7 linked regions of the Homo sapiens genome follow. The protein of the gene in region 1 purifies or fractionates together with the protein of each later gene. This does not show direct contact. Each region holds a gene or a part of one and is shown in the gene's direction. Other genes may lie near its edges.

What was found.
Region 2: the proteins of ZNF333 (region 1) and TRIM37 purify together in Homo sapiens (co-immunoprecipitation; one large-scale study listed by IntAct). This does not show direct contact.
Region 3: the proteins of ZNF333 (region 1) and TRIM33 purify together in Homo sapiens (affinity purification with mass spectrometry; one large-scale study listed by BioGRID and IntAct). This does not show direct contact.
Region 4: the proteins of ZNF333 (region 1) and ASPM purify together in Homo sapiens (affinity purification with mass spectrometry; one large-scale study listed by BioGRID and IntAct). This does not show direct contact.
Region 5: the proteins of ZNF333 (region 1) and MRPS9 purify together in Homo sapiens (co-immunoprecipitation; one large-scale study listed by IntAct). This does not show direct contact.
Region 6: the proteins of ZNF333 (region 1) and ARL15 purify together in Homo sapiens (affinity purification with mass spectrometry; one large-scale study listed by BioGRID and IntAct). This does not show direct contact.
Region 7: the proteins of ZNF333 (region 1) and HJURP purify together in Homo sapiens (affinity purification with mass spectrometry; one large-scale study listed by BioGRID and IntAct). This does not show direct contact.

The regions. Positions count from the first base shown.
Region 1 is NC_000019.10:14,700,048-14,703,547, forward strand, and holds part of ZNF333 (zinc finger protein 333), read left to right. Parts: intron 1-158; exon of another isoform or gene 159-1,837; intron 1,838-3,500. UniProt on the Homo sapiens protein: May be involved in transcriptional regulation.
Region 2 is NC_000017.11:59,026,881-59,030,380, reverse strand, and holds part of TRIM37 (E3 ubiquitin-protein ligase TRIM37), read left to right. Parts: intron 1-1,657; coding exon 1,658-1,966; intron 1,967-3,500. UniProt on the Homo sapiens protein: E3 ubiquitin-protein ligase required to prevent centriole reduplication. Probably acts by ubiquitinating positive regulators of centriole reduplication.
Region 3 is NC_000001.11:114,399,704-114,403,203, reverse strand, and holds part of TRIM33 (E3 ubiquitin-protein ligase TRIM33), read left to right. Parts: intron 1-320; coding exon 321-444; intron 445-1,740; coding exon 1,741-1,815; intron 1,816-3,500. UniProt on the Homo sapiens protein: Acts as an E3 ubiquitin-protein ligase. Promotes SMAD4 ubiquitination, nuclear exclusion and degradation via the ubiquitin proteasome pathway. According to PubMed:16751102, does not promote a decrease in the level of endogenous SMAD4.
Region 4 is NC_000001.11:197,083,627-197,087,669, reverse strand, and holds the end of ASPM (abnormal spindle-like microcephaly-associated protein), read left to right. Parts: intron 1-697; coding exon 698-867; intron 868-3,243; coding exon 3,244-3,346; 3' UTR 3,347-3,543; downstream 3,544-4,043. UniProt on the Homo sapiens protein: Involved in mitotic spindle regulation and coordination of mitotic processes.
Region 5 is NC_000002.12:105,044,569-105,048,068, forward strand, and holds part of MRPS9 (small ribosomal subunit protein uS9m), read left to right. Parts: intron 1-3,500.
Region 6 is NC_000005.10:54,304,074-54,307,573, reverse strand, and holds part of ARL15 (ADP-ribosylation factor-like protein 15), read left to right. Parts: intron 1-3,500.
Region 7 is NC_000002.12:233,844,536-233,848,035, reverse strand, and holds part of HJURP (Holliday junction recognition protein), read left to right. Parts: intron 1-574; coding exon 575-639; intron 640-2,215; coding exon 2,216-2,308; intron 2,309-3,500. UniProt on the Homo sapiens protein: Centromeric protein that plays a central role in the incorporation and maintenance of histone H3-like variant CENPA at centromeres.

The DNA.
Region 1 (3,500 bases):
AGGCTGGAATGCAGTGGCATGTTCATGGCTCACTGCAGCCTCAAACTCCTGGGCTCAAGCGATCCTTCTACCTCAGCCTCCCGAGTACCTGGGACCACAGGCCTGAGTCACCATGCCCAGCTAATTTTTTTCTTTTTCTTTCTTTTTTTTTTTCTTAGAGATGGGGTCTTGCTATGTTGCCCAGGATGATCTCGAACTCCTGGCCTCATGTGTTCCTCCCACCTCAGCCACCCAAGTAGCTGGGACTACAGGTGTGAGCCAGTGGGCCCAGCCATTACTCACCTCTTGTCAGGAGCAAGCTCCACCTGGAGAAAAGGCTCCTGATGAGTTGAAAGGAGGCAGGAAATGTTTCTGGAGGAGCTGTAACCTGGATGTGGGTGAGAGAACTGGCAAGACAGAGGCCACTTTGATTGGAAAGAATGTGGGAAAGTTGTTGGGCATCCTTTTCTTCTTAGGAGACCAGTCTAGATCCCACACTGGAAGGAAGCCCTTTTCAGTGTGGAAAAAGCCTTCCATATGAGCTTGTACATTAATAGTACAGGAGAAAATATACACGGAGTCCCCACCATCCCCCCTTTGGCCCTGAATTTCCTCCGCCTCAAACAAGAGGACCTTCCAAAGTTTGAGTTCCCATTCCTGAGTATTGGTGAAAGTTAGAGTTAGGGTTTGGTTAGAAGGAGGCACAGAGCTCAGCCTCACCCCCAAGTGGGGCGTATTAGTCCCAGGGTCAGTGAGAACCCCGGGATCCCTCAGTCAGTGCCCCTTCCCCTGTGTCATGGATGGGTGTCAGCATCAGAGCGTCAGGGATGCCCCACACAGTGGATGGGGTGCAGTGGCCTCGGTTTTAGAGACCCACATTCAACTTCTTTGCCAGGGAAGCTTCTGGAACACAGAGAAGCCTCAACCCTGTGCAGCTTGGTGTGGGCTGCAGATCAGCCAAAACTCACAACCTGCCTGGCTGCAACAGACCCCTGGGCAGCTGACAGCCCTCCTCACTCCCCAGGCCCTCCTCGCCCTTGGTTTACACTCTTGTTTTGGTGGAGAACACCCTCCAGTAGCTCCTTGGGATCAGGTGCTTGGGTTTTGAGACCTTGACTTCTGAGAATGTCTTATCAGGGCTGCTGGATTGCAGGTTCCTCATCCGATGTGGTGGTTGCGGTAAGCCTCATTACAGAACATCCTTTTTTCTTTCTTTTCTTTTTAAATAGATATGGGGTCTTGTTCTGTCACCTAGGCAGGAGTGCACTGGCACGATCATAGCTCCCTGTAGCTTTGAACTTATTAGCTCAAGTGCTCTTCCTGCCTCAGCCTCCTCCCGAGTAGCTGGGACTACAGGCACGCACCACTACACCTGGCTGATTTTAAAAAATTGTTTTGGAGACGAAGTCTTGCTGTGTTGTGCAGGCTCCCATTGCAGGGCATTCTGTGTGTCATGTAGCCCCCAGTGCTTGTTGAATGAAGGAAGGAATGGATAAGGTGTTGCAGAAGGCATCTCCAGTTCCCATCCTCCACCTCCATGTCTCTCTTGCTCAGCAGGTGGACCCCATGTGAAGAAAGGAGAGAGGGAGGGAGAATGAGCAACGAGGGCCCGGTGCCCTCTTTGTTTCTGTGGGCTCTCTCCTTTCAGTACAGGGCTCCAGTGCCCTCCACAGAACTCCACACCCAGCCCAGCAAGCCCCTCCATAATGGGTGCTGAGAGTGGCAGGCATGGGGCTCTTGTTACATCAGAGCCCCAGGAAACAGGCGGTCACAGACTATTCTGAGTGGGCAGAGGAGGTCCACCTATGGACACACGTTTAGAGAAGCTGAGGAGTTCATCCCTGAAGACATCCAGCCCGTGAGTAGTAGAGGTGGGTTTGGAGCTAGGAGTTGAACCCAGACCTAACCGCAGAGACCACAGTCTCAGCTGTCAGGTTCTACTGCCTGACGATCATACAACCTGCTGCTGGGTTGATGGTGCTGACCCTTTAGGTAGCCCTTCCAGGCCATGCCAGGCATCATTGTGCCTTGTCACAATCATTGAGACCCTGTATGGTGGCTCCGAGACCTCCCTGTCACATGGGAAAAAGTGCTGATGGCCAGGGACAGATTGAGTCCCCATGGCCTCCCTCTCTTTGGTCGGCTGGTCCAGCAGAGGGACCAGTGAAGAGGAGGGTGGGAAACTGCTCTTAGAAGAGTCCCAAGGAAGCCAGGCACAGGGCCTCACCCCAGAATCCCAGCAACTCCGGAAGCTGAGGTGGGAGGACCACTGGAGCCCAGGATTTTGAAACCAGCCTGGGCAATATAGCAAGAACCCATCTCTGCAAAACATACAAAAATTAGTCATGGCTAGGTGTGGTGGTGTGCACCTGTAGTTCAGCTACTTGGGAGGCTAAGGCGAGAAAATTGCTTGAGCCCAGGAATTCAAGGCTGCAGTGAGCCATGTGTTTGCACCACTGCTCTCCAGCCTGGGTGACGGAGCAGGATTCTGTCTCAAAAAAAGAAAAATAAAACTCCCCAAGGGAGGCTGAGGAACAGGCCTCTCCAGGCTCAGCCCTTCTTCTGTCCCAGGCCCACCCCACAGCTGCCTCTTCTGCAGACACCTGGCTCCTTGAGGCTGCAGTGTTGCTGCTTTCATCCTCTGCTGCATCCGCAGGGCCTGCACTAGCAGTGCCCATGTCTTAGTCTGTTCTCACCCTGCTGATAAAGAGATACCCGAGTTGGGTCATCTATAAAGGATGCAGGTTTAATTGACTCACAGTTCAGCATGGCTGGGGAGGCCTCAGGAAACTTACAACATGGCGGCAGGGGACGCAAACACATCCTTCACATGGTGGGCAGCAAGGAGAAGTATAAACAAAAGGGGGAAAAACCCCTTATAAAACCATCAGATCGTGGCCGGGCGTGGTGGCTCACACCTGTAATCCCAGCACTTTGGGAGGCCGAGGCGGGCGGATCATGAGGTCAGGAGATCGAGACCATCCTGGCTAACATGGTGAAACCCCGTCTCTACTAAAAATACAAAAAATTAGCCGGGCGTGGTGGCGGGCGCCTGTAGTCCCAGCTACTTGGGAGGCTGAGGCAGGAGAATGGCGTGAACCCCAGGGGGCGGAGCTTGCAGTGAGCCGAGATCGCGCCACTGCACTCCAGCCTGGGCGACAGCAAGACTCCGTCTCAAAAAAAAAAAAAAAAAAAACCATCAGATCTTGTGAGAACTCACTCACTATTTCGAGAACAGCAGCATGGGGGTAACTGCCTCCATGATTCAATTACCTCCCACCGGGTCCCTCCCATGACATACGGGGATTATGGGAACTACAATTCAAGATGAGATTTGGGTGGGGACACAGCCAGACCATATCAGCCCAGTACATATTTGTTCGACAAATAGGCAGAACGCCTAAAAACAGTTTCTTTAAGTTGAGTGACCTGTGTCAAAATGATTCTGATGGAAACATTTGTCTCAAAATGTACCCGTGGGATTTTGATTTATGACACAGAGAGGCCAATGTCATTGGAAA
Region 2 (3,500 bases), on another chromosome or scaffold:
AATCTCAACACTTGGGGAGGCTGAGGCGGGTGGATCACCTGAGGTCAGGAGTTCGAGACCAGCCTAGCCAACATGGTGAAACCCTGTCTCTACTAAAAATACAAAAAATTAGCCGGCCATTGTGGCAGGTGCCTGTAATCCCAGCTACCTGGGAAGCTGAGGCAGGAGAATGGCTTAAACCTGGGAGTCGGAGGTTGCAGTGAGCCGAGATCGTGCCATTGCACTCCAGCCTGGGCAACGAGTGAAACTCCATGAAAAAAAAAAATGAACTGGAATACAGACAGTTATTTTTCTGGAGGTGATACTGGATAATTAAAACCAAGGGTGTGAGATTGCAAAGGAGTTTTAAGAATATTTTAAAAGAAGAGAGCCAGGAACATAATCCTGATGAATATCTGTTTTTACTGAGTGTCAGGAAGATGAGCCAGATAAAGAGCTTTTAGAAAGGAGAAAAAATACTCATGGAAGCCAAATGAAAATACCTTTCAGTGAAGGGATGTTAATAAAAGCTAGTGTGCAGAAATATATGACTTTCTTTTTATTGAAAAGGCTTGCTTGGGTCATTTTTTGTTTGATTGATTGTTTGTTTGTTTTTGAGACAGAGTCTCACTCTGTTGCCCAGGCTGGAGTGCTCTACAATTTTTTGTAGAGACAGGTTTCACCATGTTGGCCAGGTTTGTCTCAAAACTCCTGAGCTCAAGTGATCCACCTGCCTCGGCCTCCCAAAGTGTGCTGGGATTATAGGCGTGAGCCACTGCACGTGGCCTGCTTGGGCTTTGATGTTTATTTTTTTCTGTGTATTTATTTAACACATATTTAGTGAACATTTGTCAGATTAACTTCATGTTCTTAACCATGTAAAGGAGTACTGTAAAAGGTATCAGGTAATCTAGTTGAACCAGATTTTAAGGTACATATAGTGGTAAGTAGAACTAGAGTCATGTTGGGTCCATTCTATGAAAGGACTTGCATGCTAGCCGGAGGAATTTATTCATACTAGGCATGGAGAGCTATTGTTTTATTTTAGAAGTGGTTAGATTCAAACCGTATTTCAGAAAGCTGACAGTTCTGAGAAAATTATCAGAAATGGAAGTTCTAATAAAAAAATTTTTTTTTGTACAGATAGGGTGTCACTATGCTCCCCTGGCTGATCTTGAACTTCTGGCCTCAAGCGATTCTCTCACCTCAGCCTCCTGAAGTGCTGGGATTACAGGCATAAGCCACTGCACCTGGCCAGAAATATGTATTTTTAATATAATGTTATATATGGCAGATTTGACAAAGTATTTGGTTTCTAGATTTTTCTTTGTCTTTTTTTTCAATTATAAACATAATAAAAGCTCTGTAGAAAGTTTCAGAAAAGTGGAGAAGTTTAAAGAAGAAAGCACAAGGCAGTAGGGCAGCTTTTAAACTTTTAGAATTAAATGTGTAATTCGAACTTGAGTATGATGTGACTCAGATTCTAACTCTGAAGGTGTGAATAAGGTAGGATTCTTTATCTTTATTTTCATTAATGGAATTTAGTGCATGTTTTATTGTTGATACCACGTAAAGCACGCTAGCTTATTTTACACATCAAATTTGCATATATTCATGGTACAAATGATTTCATTAATATTAACGTTTATGTTAACATGACTTGTCAATTTCTCTGAAGCATCATATTCTCGAAAAGATAAAGACCAAAGGAAGCAACAGGCAATGTGGCGAGTGCCCTCTGATTTAAAGATGCTAAAAAGACTCAAAACTCAAATGGCCGAAGTTCGATGTATGAAAACTGATGTAAAGAATACACTTTCAGAAATAAAAAGCAGCAGTGCTGCTTCTGGAGACATGCAGACAAGCCTTTTTTCTGCTGACCAGGCAGCTCTGGCTGCATGTGGAACTGAAAACTCTGGCAGATTGCAGGATTTGGGAATGGAACTCCTGGCAAAGTCATCAGTTGCCAATTGTTACATACGAAACTGTAAGTAATATGTTCCCAGTGTCATTTCTCCACACGTTATTTGGGAAACTAGATGACTGGTTTTTTCAAAAGAATAATATTTAAATACCACTCTTCCAGTGAGTTAAGACTACAAATTACATGTGACTTTTTTCTTCATCCAAAATTGATTCCGTATATTTTTACTATATAATAGAACTAACATTTCTTGATTGCTTACTCTGTATTTGGCAATAAACAAGACAAAATTCTTAACATCATAGATCTTGTATTCTAGTAGTGGGAATCAGACATTAAAAAGTGTAGACAAGTAAGTAAAGATCATTTCAGTGGGTAAAAGGTGCTGTGAAGGAAACAACCGAGGAGTGGGATGGGAGGAGCAGATGAGACATGTTCTATTGGGGTAGTCAGAGAAAGTCTCTGTGAGGAGGCAGCACTTGACCTGAGACCTGAAGTTTAGGAAGGTGGCAGCTATTTATAGATCTAGGGCAAGCAGTGTTCTGGGTAAACAGAACAGAAACTGCAAAGTCACTGACACAGGATTTATTTTGCGTATTTGAAGGATTGAAGGAAGACCAGTATGGCAAAGAAAGCAGAGAGAGGAGACTAGCAGGAGACGAAGTCAGAGAGAGGTAGGCAGAATTTAGATCAGGGAGAGTCTTGCAAAACCTCAAAAAGGAGTTCGAGTTTTATTATGATGTAAGGAGGAAGCCTCTAGAGAATAAAAATAAGGGGTGTTTATAATCTGATTTACACTTTACAAAGATGACTTTGCTTGTTGTGTGGAGAAGGGTCTGAAAAGGGTTGAGGACAGGAATTGTGAGACCAGTAACAGCCTATTACATTATCTTGTGTGAAATATGATGGCATTTTCTGGAGTTACAATAATGGATAGAGGGGCTTGTTCACAGTCTAGCAGCCTTTCTTGACTGAGGTTCCCATCTTTCTTAGTTCTCTTAAGGATGTGCTATTCTATTCTAGATGCATAGGAGGGAAGTTAATCCAGTCTTAGATCAGCAGGGCTGAGTTCTTTCTCAGAACCATAGTTGAAAAAGCCTAAATAGAATTTTAGGAAAGTTCTATTTAGAAAGAAACTAAGAATTATGATTAAGTTTTGGCCTAAGCAACTTAATAGGCAGTGGTATCATTTATTGAGAAGCAAATCAGATAAGAAGCAGGTTATGGGGCTTGGGAGGAGGTAAGGGCAGAAAGTTGGGTATTCTTTTTTAAACATGTTTAATTTGAGACACCTGCTAGATATCCTAGTAAAATGTCATAGACACGTGAATGGTACACAACTTTGAAACTCAGAGAGAGGTCAATGCTGGATATAAACAGTTGGGAGTCAATAGTATTTTATATTATTTAAATCCAGAAGACTGAATAGGGTCAAGTTTGGAGGGAGTTTCAATGGAGAAGCAAAATTTTTGACTCTGTGGCACTTAAACATTTAAAGATCTGATAAATAGGAGAGGCCAGCAAAGGAAATTGAAAGAGCAATCATTAAGGTAGGAGAAAAACTAGAAGGGATAATATCTCAAAAATCAAAAATAAT
Region 3 (3,500 bases), on another chromosome or scaffold:
TGGTGATACTGGGATCTGAGAGAATTGGTCTTAGGCCTTATGCTGCAAGTACTGCTCATCACTACTAAGAGACCCCCTTTTAATGCGGAGGTGCCATTTTTATAATGCATTCCAGAAAGTAATCAATTGATGCGTGACTAGGAAAATTTAGAGGAGTTTTTAATCACATGACTTCACCTGACGAGATTTCACAACTATAAAACCTCCCTTTTTTCAAAAAATTATTAAGAAAATAAACCAGGCCCCAGTCCAGGGAAGTAGCTTCTCTAGAGCAGGCTTTCTTATAATTACGTGGACTAATTGCCTATTTCCCTGTCTAGTGGGGACTGGATATGCACATTTTGTAGAGATATTGGAAAGCCAGAAGTTGAATATGATTGTGATAATTTGCAACATAGTAAGAAGGGGAAAACTGCGCAGGGGTTAAGCCCCGTGGACCAAAGGGTAAGTGTCAAATAAGTTGATTTGTCACTGGGATTCAGTAGTTGTCTGCCTATATATACACCTTTTTTTTTCCTGTGTAGCATACACAAAACCTGATAACATTTAATTTTTAATCCTGTCATCTGATGGTATATTGATGATTTCTGAAGTCTTTTTTTCCTCTAACCCTGAACTACAGACCCTTCTATCCAGATTCCTCAAACTTAACATGTCCCAACTAAAATCTTAATTTCTAATCCTCTCCCTCCAAGCACAAAACCAAGCAAATAACGACATAAAAAACTGTATTCCTCCCCCAGTATTCCCCTTAATTGAATGATACCACCATTCATTTCTGTTGCTCAGGTTAGAAACCTATTAGAAATGAAATAATAATAACTATAATATGATTTTCTTACCTTACATCATAATTTCTCATCTGGACTATTGTAGTGATCTCTTAACTGCTCTCCCCGCTTCTGCTCTTGACCTTTATAGTTTGTTTTCTGTATTAAACAGTGTTCTTTTTAAAAAAGTAAACAAGTCTATCATTTCCTTGCTTAAAATCCTCTAATAGCTTCTCATCATATTAAAAATGGAAACTCTCTCCTTACTTTACTCAGATTTTTACCAATCTGGCCTGTAGTCTGATTGCCAAAGACAGACTCTTTTGCATTGTCGTGTGGTCATTAGAGTTAAGTTTGGCTCTACTCTGGTGTATATACTGGTAAAAACCCTCATCCACTATCTGTGAAGACAAGATACGTGTTTAGGGTATACAAACTTGTATTAAAAGAAGTTTAGATAAATAGAAGACTGTGAATGTAAAATGCATTTCAGTTTACTCATGATTGGGTAAAAAAATATTTTTGGAGTTAGACTGAGAAGGCCATTTTCATTTTGAACCTGACTGGAATCATTTGAAGAAAGGGGATGATAACTTTCAACATTTGTCTTGCCTGTCTAAGGAATTACCATGAGGAGCAACAGTGATAATTTATTTACTTATTTATTTATTACCAAGTAATTTATAAATTTTTGCACAAAGTGTTAGATGTTGCTTTTGTGACTCCCTTCCATAAATTACCTTAGTTATCTTCCATTCTTACTTAAAGTAGAACAAAAGATAGTCTGAAAACAAAATGAGAAGCAAGGGAATTTTCTTTGGGTGTTTATGTTTAGTTGAGTATCTAGTAAACAGGGGGCTTGTGTTCAGTTTGTTGTAATCAAACTTTGTTGTGATATAGTTCTCATTCTCGAGAATGTTTTATTAGGAGAAAAATATTTCATGTGCTTTCCTTTCCTTGTTTGGGCCAGAAATGTGAACGTCTTCTGCTTTACCTCTATTGCCATGAATTAAGTATTGAATTCCAGGAGCCTGTTCCTGCTTCGGTGAGTTGCCTACCTTAGTAGCTCGGTGGGGAAGTCTCATAATACTTAAGAGTATGGGCTCTGGCGGCCGGGCGCGGTGGCTCACGCCTGTAATCCCAGCACTTTGGGAGGCCGAGGCAGGCGGATCACGAGGTCAGGAAATAGAGACCACGGTGAAACCCCGTGTCTACTAAAAATACAAAAAACTAGCCGGGCACGGTGGCGGGCACCTGTAGTCCCAGCTACTCCGGAGGCTGAGGCAGGAGAATGGCATGAACCCGGGAGGCGGAGCTTGCAGTGAGCCGAGATCGCGCCACTGCACTCCAGCCTGGGCGACAGAGCGAGACTCCGTCTCAAAAAAAAAAAGAAAAAAAAAAAAAAGAGTATGGCCTTAGACTAAGTTGTATTACACCTCAGCCTTCTGGAATAAGCTCTTCAACCTCTCTAAGACTCAAGTTTTCTGACACGATTTTTTACCTCATTGGGTTGTTCTGAGGATTATATAAAATAACCTATGTAAAATATTTAGCATAGTCTATAGTCATTGAGTTTTGTAAGGAATAAAGGCTCTAAAATGCTGCAATAAAAGGAAGATTAGAGGTGTTTGGTGCCTAATAAGTGGGGTAAGAATATTCTACACACATTTTATTGCTAGCCATCAGTTGTTGAATAGTACATTATTACATACCAGGCCTGTTAGAGAATATTAAATGGTAGTTGACTTGTTTACTGGGTAGCCTGAGAAATGAATTTTAAATCACAAAAGGTATAGACAGAAGGAAGATGTTTTGTACAAGCAGTAATCATCTGTTTCTGGAAAATTTGTCTCATCTTTAAGTGCAGGGATTTTAAAGTAGAAAATGACTTTCAAATGTTTTCTTTTTATGGACTATTAAAGTAGCTTCTTGGCCGGGCATGGTGGCTCATGCCTGTAATCCCATCATTTTGGGAGGCCTGGCAGGCAGATCACTTGAGTTCAGGAGTTCAAGACCAGCCTGGCCAACATGGTGAAACCCCCTCTCTACTGAAAATATAAAAATTAGCCGGGCGTGGTAGTGCATGCCTGTAATCCCAACTGCTAGGGAGGCTGAGGCAGGATAATTGCCAGGGGATGGAGGTGGCAATGAGCCACAGTTGGCGCCACTGCACCACTGCACTCCAGCCTGGGCGACAGAGCAAGACTCCATCTCAAAAATCAATTAGTCAATCAGTCAATAAAATAGCTTCTCTAACTTTACTTTTATCCCAAGGGTAGAAATTTTTCGCCAGAGTTGGGGTCAGAATTCCCTAGCGTGAACACTAAATGGTTAATAAAGTTAGTAAATTTTTCTTATGTTCTTAGTCTTACTTCCTCTGTTACTAAGTCAAGACTTCGTGATGTAAATGATATTCCCTGTTATGTTTTCCAAAAGACATCATATTCTAATTGTAACATTAATATATTTTGTAAATTTTTTTCTTTAAAAAAAAAAGAAAAACTCCTAAGGAGTCATAAAATTCTGGTAAGTCAAATGTTGCCTCAAGGCTACTGGTTGGTTACCCTTGCTAATTGCTTTCTTTCCAAATCTTATTATTAAAAGTAGGACTTTGGGGACTTGGACTAACCATGAAGATTGGCACATATGCCACATAAGATTTGGTTTTCATGAAGATGTAAAGTACATACGTCTATACTCAAAATTTGCAAGCAGCTGGCTCTATAATAA
Region 4 (4,043 bases), on another chromosome or scaffold:
CAAGAGATTGTGCTTGTCTTAGGATTGTGTCGCTGAGAGGTAAGTAGAAGACTTTGGAAACTGCAGAGGTAAACTTTTCAAGACTTGGTAACTGGATATGATAGGTGTGTTGACTATAATTGCTATGTTGACTATAATAATTCCTTCTTATATTCAGTGTGGAGTTAAGTATGCAACTTTTGAATATTTATCTTCCTTATAATTGCCTTGCAAATTAGCTCGTAATTTAAATCAATCTACCTGCCAAACTTGGTGAGGTTTCTTTGATTATTCAAAGCTTAAAAGTTTACTGCAGGCTGGGCACGGTGGCTCACGCCTGTAATCCCAGCACTTTGGGAGGCTGAGGTAGGCAGATCACGAGGTCAGGAGATTGAGACCATCCTGGCTCACACGGTGAAACTCCATCTCTACTAAAAATACAAAAAAAATTAGCCGGGTGTGGTGGCGGGTGCCTGTAATCCCAGCTACTTGGGAGACTGAGGCAGGAGAATGGCGTGAACCCGGGAGGCAGAGATTGCATTGAGCTAAGATCGCACCACTGCACTTCAGCCTGGGCGACAGAGCAAGAGAGACCATCTCAAAAAAGAAAAAAAAAAGGTTTACTGCATAGTTTTTATTATATTTGATTTTGCTAGTCTAAAAGAGATAAAATTTTAATTCTTATTACTTTTTAGTAACTGTGCATTTTATTTTGTAGGATGTACGAAGTAGGTCCAAAGTTGTTGACCGTATTTACAGTCTCTACAAACTTACAGCTCATAAACATAAAATGAATACTGAAAGAATACTTTACAAGCAAAAGAAGAATTCTTCTATAAGCATTCCTTTTATCCCAGAAACACCTGTAAGGACCAGAATAGTTTCAAGGTAAGCAATTAAATATAGTCCATAAATTTGTGTCACTGTTCATTCATTCATTTAACAAATATTTATTGAGCACTTACCATAAACAAGATGTGCTTTTCAGTGGAGAAACAACATATGAATAAGAATGGAATGTTTGGTAAATTTAAAAGAAGCAGTCTTGGTAAATAAAGAAATAACATTATACTGTAGCTTTGGACATTTAATAGTTATTCAACAAACTTCTTATATTAAATAGTTAAGAGCTAAGGCTAAGAAGCTTGTTATAAGTTTTGTCATTTTATTTTATTTATTTTATTTTGCATGAAAGACAAACTACACTGTTTAAGAAGTGCCAAAAGTCCTTCTTAGCCAAAATATCAACCTCCAGTCCTCCCATAATCACCCTGATTCTTGAAATTTCTCCTTCTGGAAATTTAGATTGACATTTTCTGATTTTATTGGCAAAAAGATTTAATTTATTTTGGTGAACCGTCATGGCATTTAATTAGTGTTTTTACTCCCTTCCTTCTTTCTCCCTCCTCCTTTTTTTCTTCCCCCTTCTCCCTCTCTCCCTCCCTTCCTTCCTTCTTTCCTTCTTGAGACTTAGCAATTCTCTATACTAGGTACAAATCCTACATTATTGACAACACACTATTTCTTGACCTGAGTGGTTACACAGCCATTAGCTTTATAATTATACTCATAATTATAAACTGTATAATGTAGTTATAAATTGGTTTTATGCATGCATATTTCACAGCATAATGTAAAGTTCATTTGCTTGAAATATATTAATGGGACCATTTCTACATGTTTTTTAAGGACTTGGTAGAATTTAATATTCATTATGTTTTAAAAGCTCATACTAACATATGAATGGATTCTCTTAAAATTTTGATGTAGGTCAGGCTTTTGAGGTAAAATTTACTGACAGTATAAATGCATCCTTTAAATGTATGCAATTCAATTCGTTTTGACAAATGTATACAGTTAGGAAACTACCACCACTGAGATACAAAATATTTCTGTAACACAAAGTTTCCTTATGCCCCTTTGTTGTCAGTTCTCTTTCTTTATTCCCTGGATTTTGGGAACTACTGATCTGATTTTTGTACCTTTAGTTTTGCCATTTCTATACTGTCACATATATGGAATCATATAGTAGATAGCTTTTTGTGACTGGATTCTTTTCCTTAGCATAATGCTTTTGAAATTCGTTCATGTTTATGCATGGATTTGAATTTCATTCCTTTCTATCACTTAGTACTATTCCATTGTATGGTCGTACCACACTTTGTTCACTCACCAATTGATATATCTTTGGATTTTTAGCAGGACAAAATAAGATGATGGAAATGCATATAGTAGGGAATTATGTGAGAAGATGCATGAACTCCCTCGGTTTGATACTATTTTCTCAATAAGTTTGAGATTATAAACTCAACAACTCAGAAGCAGCTCAGAGGGTATGGAGGGGAAGTTTGAAAAGAGGAAAGGACCAAGATAGTCATCTTGGAGAGAAAGGGAGCATGCTGGCAATTTCAAATGCTCATTTTAGATTTGTAATTATTGGCAAAAAATAAAATCAGCTTGGTTGTGTAAACATTTTTAGTAATATGCAGCTGTATAGGAATGGAGAAGGCAGATATTTTGACTCAATTTGAAATCCAAGTAGAATTCTTCAGACTAGTTTGGTAGGAGAGAGAGACAACAGTTAATGGCATTTGCAAAGGTTTTGATAATACTGATGCACCTGAGCTAGATACACAGGAAAGTAAGGACAGCATTCTGGTGGATGTTGGGTATGTGTTGAGGCCAAATGAAGTGGAGATCTCAGTGGGGTAGAAGAACTGGTTCAATGACTGTGTTAGAGCATATGACATGGATGAATCAGAAATGGTGGATGGAGAATGGAAGTCTCAAGATTTCAGTGGTCGCACACTTTCTGATGATGACAAAGTCTAGTATGTGATCATATTAAAAAGGATTGGTTGAGGTAGAATTGAAGGAAAGTGGGGCAAAAACGGACTAGGTTGTTGGCTTTTTGGCCACATAGATGTTGCTGTTGCTGAGAACGGTGACAGTAGGTAAGAGGAGAACAAGAACCAGGTTTACAAGGAATAAGACACTGAGAGTTTGGCTGATGACCAAAAGGCAGTGGTCAAGCTAAATAGCATAAGCTTCAAAGAAGCCAGCATTATTTTTTAGAAAGGATGGAGAGAAATAGTCTGGAACTAGTGATGGGCAATAATATGAAGTTCTCCCACCTCTTTGAGCAGTTTGTAAGGGAAATGATGTGTTCAGGAGTAGCTACAATTTAGTTAAGAGAAAAAAGGTGAAGGTAACTCTAAAGAGAAGAACTTTATTAATGCCAGACTTTTTTTTTTTTTTTAACAGACTTAAGCCAGATTGGGTTTTGAGAAGAGATAACATGGAAGAAATCACAAATCCCCTGCAAGCTATTCAAATGGTGATGGATACGCTTGGCATTCCTTATTAGTAAATGTAAACATTTTCAGTATGTATAGTGTAAAGAAATATTAAAGCCAATCATGAGTACGTAAAGTGATTTTTGCTCTCCGTGTACAACTTTTAAAATCTGACTTTGTTTTAAAAAAACATAAACTGTTCATTACATTCTTCATTTTTATCATTTATAGTTTTATGCATGTAATAAACTAATATGTCATAAGATGATTATATTATTCCTGTCTATTATCTTAAAGTATTATAGTAGTTTCAATGTAATCTTATTACTAAAAGGAAATAATAGCTGATTACACCTTTTTTATAGGTAAGTTGAGGAATTTTCATAAAACAAATGTTAGAAATTGAAGTTCTGTCTACTCACTAAGAAGTGAGACTAGGATAAAATAATCTCACAAATTCATATCAATGGCATCCTTATCTATATCCTTGACTGGCTAAAGCATCCAGATAAGCAAGTGAGCCCTTCTAGGCTCACAAAAAGAATACACCCACCACTGTATTTACTAAAAATTCTTACCATTGAACTGATGGGGGTTATAATTTGAAGTGGAAGGAACATGCTATTGCTTATAATAGAATCTTGTTGTGTAGTTATACACCACAGACCTGAAAATGATTCAGTATTGAAATGTGATTTTTTTTCTACTCTTTGAGTCACTATTACTAGTATCTGTGGTTTCAGGGCCACAGATGTCTAATTCTTATGG
Region 5 (3,500 bases), on another chromosome or scaffold:
CCATTTTTTTAAAGCCCTTTCTAAATGGACAACAATGAAAATGTTTATAAATATGTTTAAACCTCAATTATGTTAAAAGTAGGAAAGCCACCACCTTATGTCACAAACTCTGGAGACTATAGGCAGACACAATTTTAAATCAAGTGAAAAACCAAGTCTTCAATAATCGAGACTCTTTTGCTTGAGAAGATGCTAAAATGTTGTAGGAGCAAAAGGAACAGTGTGGAAGAGACAGCTGAAGAAAATACAAAGGGATATTTACCTAACAAAATGGAAGAATTATTTTACCACAGCTACTTAACACTGTCAAGGACATTTAAAAATCAGTTGAGTGAGGAGGAGCTCTATGAGATGGGATAAGACAAGAAGATATGATTAAAGGAAACTGTTGAGGTAAGAATTTTGAGGATAGACCAATGATATAAAAAGCTAAAAATTCATAGTGGCTGCAGTAAGCAGAATTGACACTGTAGAAAGAGGGAAAAAAACATGGAGTAAAGATTTCAAAATCATACAGAATGCAGAAAAGGGATAAGAAATAAGACTAAGAGAAGCTGATCTAAACTATGGAGAACAGAAGAACAGATAATTGCTGTGGCTGAAAAAGAGCTGAATAAGTCAGTAAGAATTCATTGGATATTTATTTTTGAAGTTGATAGTACATTTAAACATTTTATTCAGAGACACATGTATTGTCACTGGTAAAATGAGAGCAAGCTGTATATGGTCCAAATTGCCAGCTCAAAAGCCAAAAAAAAAAGAAAACCCAATTCTTTTTTTTTTTTCATATAGCAAAAGAAAGAAAATAGGAAGGAAGCATTAAAAAATGTAAAGATTAAATAAGATGAATGACAAGACCGAATAGCTGTTAAACCCCATGTAACTTGGGTATTCTCATCTACTAAAATCTCAGATTGGGTTAAAAAAACAAAACCTAAAAAAAATAGTCTAAAACTTAAATGAAAAAGATGGGCAGTGATATTCCAGGGAAATGTAAATAGGAGGTTGAAAGGGTTGCAATATTATGACCCAACAGAATTGAAGAAAAAAAATATTACATAGGAGTAGAAAACTTTGTAATGCTGAACGGTACAATCTACCCTAAGATGTAACTCTCTGGAACTAAATAGCACATTGAATATACCGATGAAACATACAAAAGAAACCAACCATAGGGAAATAAAATTGACAAAAGATTACAGACATTGTATGGATATAGATTCCTGTCTGGAATTATTCTCCTGGCTCACTAGTAATGAGAATTACCTCTAAGTATGAATGAATACTTAAAATTTTTTTCTCTAATTTCTTTGGGAGACAGAGTCTCCCTCTGTTGCCCAGGCTGGAGTGCAGTGGTGCGATCTTGGCTAACTGCAACCTCCGGCTCCCCGGTTCAAGCGATTCTCCTGCCTCAGCCTCCTGAATGACTGGTATTACAGGCGCACACCACCATGCCCTGCTAATTTTTGTAATTTTTAGTAGAGATGGGGTCTCACAATGTTGGCCAGGCTGGTCTCAAACTCCTGACCTCAAGTGATCCACCTGCCTTGGCCTCCCAAAGTGCTAGAATTACAGGCGTGAGCCACCGCACCCAGACATCTCTAATTTCTTTCTGACAGTTTTTCTGTCTATACTTTACAACCACTGCATCACAGTTCTTTGAATATGAGGTGTTCAGTCTGTTAAACCTACCGCCTTTTGCTCTCAGCAGACAGACCATCTTCTATTTCATAGAGAAAATAGAGGGTGTAAGACATAAGTAACCTTGCCTTTCTGCCTACCTTCCCTCACCTACAAACAATTTGTTTCATTACTAGTAGAAGACATGTTTTTTGTCCTAACGCTAATGCTTGCCATTTTTTCTCCTTCTCTTTTAAGTGTCAACATCATGTCTCAGGTGATTAACAGACCTGTATCTGAAGCTCAGGTCTGTCCATGCTCACACCCACAAAGCCACCTGCCTCCTGGACATCTGTCTTCCTGGGATGTCCATCAACATCTCACACACATTCTCAAATTTGAACGCATCACTTTCCTCCCTGATCTTGCTCCTCCTCTGGAATCCCTTCAGTGAAAGGAGCCATACGCTCCAGGAGGCACATTTCCTGAGGGCTGTGGTTGGTGATTGGCAGGGAGTGTGGTTGTAGTGACCTAAAAGAAAGTCTTTGTGGGTTCACCTGTATTAGGGTTGTTTTAGCTGTGAACAAAAACATTTTGTCATGTTATCTATAAAAACCAGCAGTGTAATCATCCTTTTGGCAATGGAACATTTGGGAGAATTATCTACTATATGATTGCTACTTTTTGGCCCCCAAATCACACCTTTGCTATGATTCTTGGGGTAGAAAGATAATTTCTCTTCACTTTGAATATGTGAAGCAACATTCTCCATTGCCCAAAGAAGACGTAGACTCATAAAGAACAAATTTTAAAATCCCCTGGAAAACAGTAAAAACGTTAAGATGGGAACCACTATGGTAGGGAGTTGGTGCTGGTGGCGCTGGGCTGTGGCAAGGGGAGCAGGGGTGTACAGACAGGCTGTGTCTATAAAAGAGCGGACCATGCATTAGCCAGTTGTGGTCATGCTTTTACTCATTGACAGCAATACTGTATCTTCACAAAGCATTGTGAGAAACGATAATGATTGGTTAGTAATATATTTTAGAAGGATGTGATCTCCTAAGTAAAAATAAACTCAAGTTTCAGAGAATTTTAAATTGCCCTTTTCTTACTCATTAAAAAGTAAGAAGAAACTCTATTTTTACTATCTTAATTTGGAAGAGTTTAAAAACATATATTTTTTTCATTAATTGGGTATTGTTACATTTCTCCTGTATTTTTTCTTATATTTTCTTGTGTAACTTTAGTGACAAATTACTGTAGAGGCATCTGAATTTAGGACTCTTGGAAGGGAAGGGGATGGAGGTAGGAGGGATGGTGCCAGTGAATGATGTCTGTCTGAGAGAGATTTATGTTTATGAAAAAGGAAGTGAGTGGATTCCTAAGATTGTGGTTTTAAGGCCTGAATATTGCTTTAAGAGTGTTTAGAATTGTTGGGGCCAGGATGAAGGTTGAGAACTACAGGTTTGAGATCTTAAGAAAAGCCAGGACCAGAAAGATCTGTTCTAGTTATTTCCAGCTACGGGATGCAGCTGAATGTCATTTGAAAACATTTTTCTCGTTTTTTAGCATCTTTGACTGAAGGCGAAATCTTCATGCCTTGGAGGGAAATTCCTAGTGCCACAGCATAAAAGGACCAGCAGCAGCAAGTGTGATATAATTACTGATGCCTTTAAAAGATATGCGAGCCCTTTGGGTATATACCCAGTAATGGGATGGCTGGGTCAAATAGTATTTCTAGTTCTAGATCACTGAGGAATCGCCACACTGACTTCCACAATGGTTGAACTAGTTTACGGTCCCACCAACAGTGTAAAAGTGTTCCTATTTCTCCACATCCTCTCCATAAAGACACATGCACACGTATGTTTATTGCGGCA
Region 6 (3,500 bases), on another chromosome or scaffold:
AAACAAATGTTCTCAGAAGTGACAGTCAAGGTGAGGGACAGGGATAGTACTTTAATATTTAAGACAGGGTTTTATTGATTTCAGTCGAGAGAAAGAATAGAAATTTGCTAATCCTAATCAATTAGATGTATCACCTGGTGCGGTGCCTGACTTGGTTTCTGGCATGTATTAATAGTTAGGGCCCGATATTTTATTTGTTGAATCAGATGAATATGAAATGGAAAGGAAAATTCTGCTTTTTTTCACCAGTTTTTAAACTGAGACAAGATAAAATCTGTTTGGATTAGGTGTTTTGTTCAGGGGAATGCAGAATGTATCCTTTACTCTTAACTTGAAGATGATCAAGATATAATCCTTTTAGCCAGGGTGGCAATTTAAACATAAAAATCTCTGTTTTCCAGTTGATGAGTGAATCTTCCTAGAAGGGCACACAACTTTTCCCCTTTCCATGATGGGGTTTAAAGGCCATGTTTACATCTGCCAAGTCTCTGGGTAAACATTTAGCTGCTGTCCCAACAGGCAGTACCAGCATCTTACTCTTTCTTCTCATAGGTAGAACTAGTAACACAATGTGCAGAGCTTTTTGGATAAGGTAGGAGAAAATAGTCAGGTTAAAATGAAAGAGAAAAACACATTTCTCGAGTTTTCCTGGGAGGTTGGACAAGATCAACTTCTAGATTCCTTTCAGTTCAAAATTTTCTGTCTTGACTCATGTGATGATTGATCTGGAATTAACCTTTTTTCCCTCTGCGCCATCAAAACAACAGTGGTAGAATTGGTTGTACTCTGTGTAATACCTATGATGATTAAATGAGATAGTGGAGGGAAAGCCATTTGTAAACAGTACGTTGCTTTTCAAATATAAAATGTTAACGTATTGTGTGGCTGGGCGAGGTGGCTCACGCCCGTAATCCCAGGACTTTGGGAGGGCAAGACAGGCGGATCACTTGAGGTCAGGAGTTTGAGACCAGCCTGGCTGACATGGAGAAACCCCATCTCCACTTAAAATAGAAAAATTAGCTGGGTGTCGTGGCGCATGCCTGTAATCTCAGCTACTTGGGAGGCTGAGGCAGGAGAATCGCTTGAACCCAGGAGGCAGAGGTTGCAGTGAGATCGCACAACTGCACTCCAGCCTGGGCGACAGAGTGAGACTCCGTCTCAAGACAAAAAAAAAAAAAAAAAGTTAACGTATTGTGATTATGTTGCTGATGTTACTTTTATACCTCCTGTAGAATGACTGTTACTGCTTAGTGGTATTGAAATACCTTTTAAACTAGTCTCAATTTATGGAAATACTGGGAGTTGTAATCAACAAGCAGGAAGTCACAAGACTCTTTTAAGAATCTTTTAAAAGCTACGAAAATAAAACCCATTTGAATAATTTATCTATTCAACAAATATTTATGGAGCCCTTACTTTCTGCATGGCCCTGAAAGTCATGCGGGATGAACCCTCAGCTGTAATATCCTCCTTGACTGCAGGACTGGCAGTCGTGTGGCTCTAGAGGAACCTGTGGCAGGACAGGTTAAGTAAGGCACATAGGGGAGGGGGTAGCTTCTGATGTGCTTCTTTGCTTTCTAGTACATTTCTCTCATTTTGTGTGTTTTATTGTGAACTAAAATATAAACTTAGACTTGAAAATGTGACAAGTAAAAATGGTTGATTAGTCTTGGATGCTAATTGTCAATTAATATTCATTGCATTTGTTTATAGTAGCCTCCACCCTCCCATCCACGGTTTTACTTTTCAAGGTTTCAGTTAACCATGGTCCACCGAGGTCTCAAAATAAGTGAGTAAAGTACAATAAGATATTTTAAGAGAGAGAGAGACCACATTCATATAACTTTTATTACTGTATATTGTTATCATTGTTCACTTTTATTATTAGTTATTATTAATCACTTACTATGCCTAATTTACACATTAAACTTTATCATAGGTGTGTGTGTATAGGAAAAAATATAGTGTGCTCTGTGCTATGTTAGTTAGTTCTATGATAGCTCAGTACTATCTGTGGTTTTAGGTATCCACTGGGACTTGGAATATATCCCCCATGGATGAGGGGAAACTACTGTACCGTGTTGGGGATTTTTTATTTATTTATTTTTTTTTTGTGACAGAGTTTTGCTCTTGTCATGCAGGCTGGAGTGCAATGGGGTGATTCTCCTGTCTCAGCCTCCTAAGTAGCTGGGATTACAGGTGCCCACCACCATGCCCAGCTAATTTTTGTATGTTTAGTAGAGACGGGGTTTCACCATGTTGGCCAGGCTGGTCTCAAACTCCTGACCTCAGGTGATCCACCTGCCTCGACCTCCCAAAGTGCTGGGATTACAGGAGTGAGCCACCGTGCCCTGCCAGTGTTTGGGATTTAATAAGATTAGATTTGATAGGTTAGTTTAATAAGATTTCTTTGTATAGACTGGTGGACTTGACCTATTTAGTTTCTTGGTTATAGGCTGTATCTGCCATCATAAAAATGTATGTCTCAGTGGGGAAGATGTGGTGAGAGAATTGGGTTGATCATCACAAATCTGTCACCATTTGCAGGATAAAAACCAGCTAACTAACCAACAATAGAAACCCATGATGTGCTACAAAGGGTAGAGCCCACAGGCACTATGAAATTGTAAAGGATCCTACTTGAAAAGAGGAGTGAAGGTACATTTGTGATTTCATATTATGTTCAGTTATCTGTGAACTGAACTTCTTTATTGATAAAAAAAAAAGTACATTGTTTCGTTGTTTTTAACCCTGAATATCTATGAACATTGTAAGTTGTATTTATTGTGACTAACTTTAAAGTGATAATGTAGGTCACTTTTTAGTCTAAATGTCGAGTGGATTAGGCAGTCATATTAAATATTCCTTTCTTAATAATTTATAAGATAAAAATTATCTGAGCACAATAAACAGATCTACCATATATGGAGTTCATATAGCAAAAATGTTTTGAGCAAATCCGTACCATTAGGTAGGAACTTTTCTACAAAGGTGTTAAGTCTGGTTCCCAAACTTCTGTGGCTCCAGTCTAACAGTATGAGCCCTAGGAGAGGACACATAGGGACCTTGATTCATGCCCTCCAGGGGCTTGCATTCTGAAAGATGCCAAAGCCACATGCTTGTTGGCATGTGGGCAGTGCTCAGGTCGGGGGTGAGAGGAGATAAGTATATGAGTTATAATCAGGAGGGCAAAATCAGTTAACATTTATTGAACACTTACTCTGTGCCAGTGTTCTAAGTGCTTTGCATGTGTAATAGCATTAAACTGAGGCTCAGGGAGGTTGTGTAATTTCCTCAAGTTCACACAGCTAGCAAGTAGTTGAACTGCGCTTGTGGCCCCAGGGCCCTCCCTCTTCATTGCCTTCCACCTACAAGTAGTTCCCTTGTGCTAGGCAGAGGCTCAGGCAGCTTGGTGTTAAGGCAGTTGGGATGCACTCAAAATTTTTAGTATATTGCTTCTTAAGTAAACAGGTACAGAAAAGTGGTCCTTGACCACTACT
Region 7 (3,500 bases), on another chromosome or scaffold:
TACTGCTATTAATCCAGATTTTAACTATAAATCCTTAGGTCCATGAATTTCCCCAACCGCTTGAAATCACAGGAAATAGTTATTTGATAGATGTACTGCCCAGTATGGCACCCACCAGCCCTCTCTGGATGATATTTAAATTAGTTGAAAGTGAAATAAAATTTAAAATCCATTTCCTCAGCCTTACTGGCCACATCCCAGCTGTTCAGTAGCCCGGTGTGGCTAGTGGCTGGCCTAGGACAGCAGGCAGAGAACTTTCCATGGTCACCGGAAGTTCTGTCGAGCAGTGCTGGGCTTGAGCGTCTCAACTTCCAGGCTCAGAGGCCATGGAAAGCTGGAGGTGGTGCAGAATCTGCCTTTCCTCACTCCATGGCCCCAGGCAGTTTCCCATTCTAGGGGTTCTCTGGGTTACTAAGAACCACGGGCAGCCGTAGATGGCTCCAGTGGGTGCACCCTTGAAGCAATGGGGATTTTTACTGTACAACTTACTCGAAGTGATGCCAAAACCATCCTTGAGAGGAAAATGCACTCCTTCCTGAAAATCCTGATTGAGATTTACTTGTTTGACTTTTAGATTCAAAAAGCGGTGAGGTCGATGCCACGTCAGACCAGGAAGAGTCAGTTGCTTGGGCCTTAGCAGTAAGTGCTGCCTTTAGTAATGAATGGACAGAGGGGGCGCTTGGGGGCTCAGGGGTCCATCAAAGCCCATGTGGCCTGAGGCGGGCAGCGCTGCCTGCACTTTTCTGGAAGTCCTCTCCTGAGGCTGGCTTTTGCTACTTCCAAGTCTCGGATTTCCTCGTGTCGATTCCCTTCAGCGGTAAGGCCCTCCTCTCAGTCTAGCACCTGGCAGCCAGTTCTACCCCCAGTGCAAGCCTGATTCACGATGATTTTCACTCTGCAGATAAAGCTGTCAGTGTGGTTGGCAGGGCGCCATCTGCCTGGATGAGCACACGACAGGAAAGCTGGGCTCTCGGTCAGTCTCCCCTACAGGGGCAGGGTAAAAAGAGAGGTGTTCTAGGGAGTATTTCCAGGTCTGTCCTCAAATGCCCCAAGTCACAAGGTCGCCTCATTGGGCAGCCGTCACTAACCCAAACAGTAAGTGTCATCTATATGTCTGTTTCCCAGAGTGCCCCCTGGGTCACAGAAACCACCCGTTTTCTTATGGGATGTGCTTCTTATCCTCCTTGGTTGGGATAGATGCGAATTTACACAGAGCTTAACCAGCTCCAGCATCTTTCCTGGCCCCCGTGTCACACTCTGTTGCCTGCCAGAATACCTGATGCATGGTTTTCCTCTAAAATTGCTACTTTTGTGCAGAGGGTTTCCCACGCACCCATGTGTGACTTTCAGTGACTAAGAAAAAGGCCGTGGTCCTGGGGAAGAAAGTGGATGCTCACTGAGAGATTGTGTAGGGATTGGAACAAAGGGGAAGTGGGTGGTACCAAGAGTCAAGAACCAAAGTGCCAGCCCCACTCAGCAGAGGATAGAGGGTGACGCCCTCTATTTCCAGTGTCTAGCAGGGGAGGGGTAGGAGAGCCTCCTGAGCTGGAGCACTGAATTTCTGTTTTTGTTTTTGGTTCTTTTGAGATGGAGTTTCACTCTGTCACCCAGGCTGGAGTGCGGTGGGGCAATCTCAGCTCACTGCAACCTCTACTTCCTGGGTTCAAGCGATTCTCCTGCCTCAGCCTCCCAAGTAGCTGGGACTACAGGCGCCCACCACCATGCCCAGCTAATTTTTGTATTGTAGTAGAGATGGACTTTCACCATGTTGGCCAGGCTGGTCTCGAACTCCTGGCCTCAAGTGATCCACCTGCCTCAGCCTCCTAAAGTGCTGGGATTACAGGCATGACCCATCACACCCAGCCAGGAGCACTGAATTTCTTATAAACTTACCAGTTTGAAGTTATTACCAGTAGTTGAGTCCTGAACTCACCTATGAATATTCAGATTTTTTTTTTCCTGGTCTAGCAATGCTGTCATAAACTTCTCTAGACATGGTTTTTTTGTGTGTGTGTGTCTTTTTACATTCTTTTGGATTATTAACATAGCAGGAAGTGAAAAAGTGACTTTGAATAACATCATGGAGGTGAAAGTGACTTTGAGTAGGATCATGTAAAGATTTGTACATTAATGAGCTTGCCAGTTTGTTCCAGAAGCCAAAAGGTCAGCTATACTCAGAAGCTCTTAAAAATTCTGACTTCTCTTTTTTGATCAGCCTGCAGTGCCTCAAAGCCCTTTGAAAAATGAATTAAGAAGGAAATACTTGACCCAAGTGGATATACTGCTACAAGGTGCAGAGTATTTTGAGGTAATCTGTTTCCCAGTTGTTTGTTTTTATATAATTAGATCATAAACTAAATACATTGAGGTACAGTGTTATTATGCTTTTTGTTTTTTCTACAGAACCCATAAAGAGCATTTGAAGTAATGATTTCCAAATTGTTTTATTCACATGCTGACATACTTGCTCTTCTTGAATAAACACTCCAGGTCCCCCAGGGCAGCGCCATCAGGAAGGTGGGAGCCCTGGCAGGGGTGCTCTGCCCACTGTTCTGGGGCAACTCACAGAAAAATCTAGTGGGGCAGCCAGGCACAGTGGCTCATGTCTGTAATCCCAGCACTTTGAGAGGCCAAGGCAGGTGGGTCACTTGAGGTCAGGAGTTTGAGACCAGCCTGGCCAACATGGTGAAATCTCATCTCTACTAAAAATAGAAAAATTAGCTGGGTGTGGTGGTGCGTGCTTGTAATCCCAGCTACTTGGGAGGCTAAGGCAGGATAATCGCTTGAACCCAGGAGGCGGAGGTTGCAGTGAGCTGAGATTGTGCCACTGTGCTCCAGCCAGGGTGATAGAGCAAGACTCTATCTCAAAAAAAAAAAAATCTATTGGGGCCACACACGGGACTCTTAAGAGCAGCCCTGACCTCTGGACCAGGATTTGAAGCTGCATAGTTAGGGAAGCAATAGTCCCCACATTCCCTGGTGCGATCAGGCTAGAATCAGCTGCAAGGTGAGGAGGCTGACCCTTGGCACCTGTCCCGCCTGCTGAGAGGTCATGTTGGGAGGGGGGGGATGTGATGGCATGAGAGGTGGGCACACTCACCTGCCAACCCCTCTCTTAAGGTCAGTGCCCTCTGCCATAGAATAAAGGACATTGCAACACCAAATACTTAGGAAGTACACATTGCAGAATAAGAATTCATCTCCAGAAAAAGGCAGCAATCTCACAGGGGTGTATGTGTTTTCTTACTGTGCTGCTGACCAGCGGAAAGCCTGTATTTGTGGACCACCGACTTAGTGGATGTACCTGAAATGCTTTTTCCTTTAACCCAAGGCAGCAAGTGGTGTCCTCTTGGTTGCTGTGTTGATCCAGGGAACAGATTAGGGTTAGGAACGAACGGATCTACTGGGTCTTCTTTGTCCACCGTCCGGTTGGCCCCTAGGTGTTCTTGTGGTCTGAGTATAATGCTAGACAAAGAAAGCTACCAGCGCCCCTGGGGTAA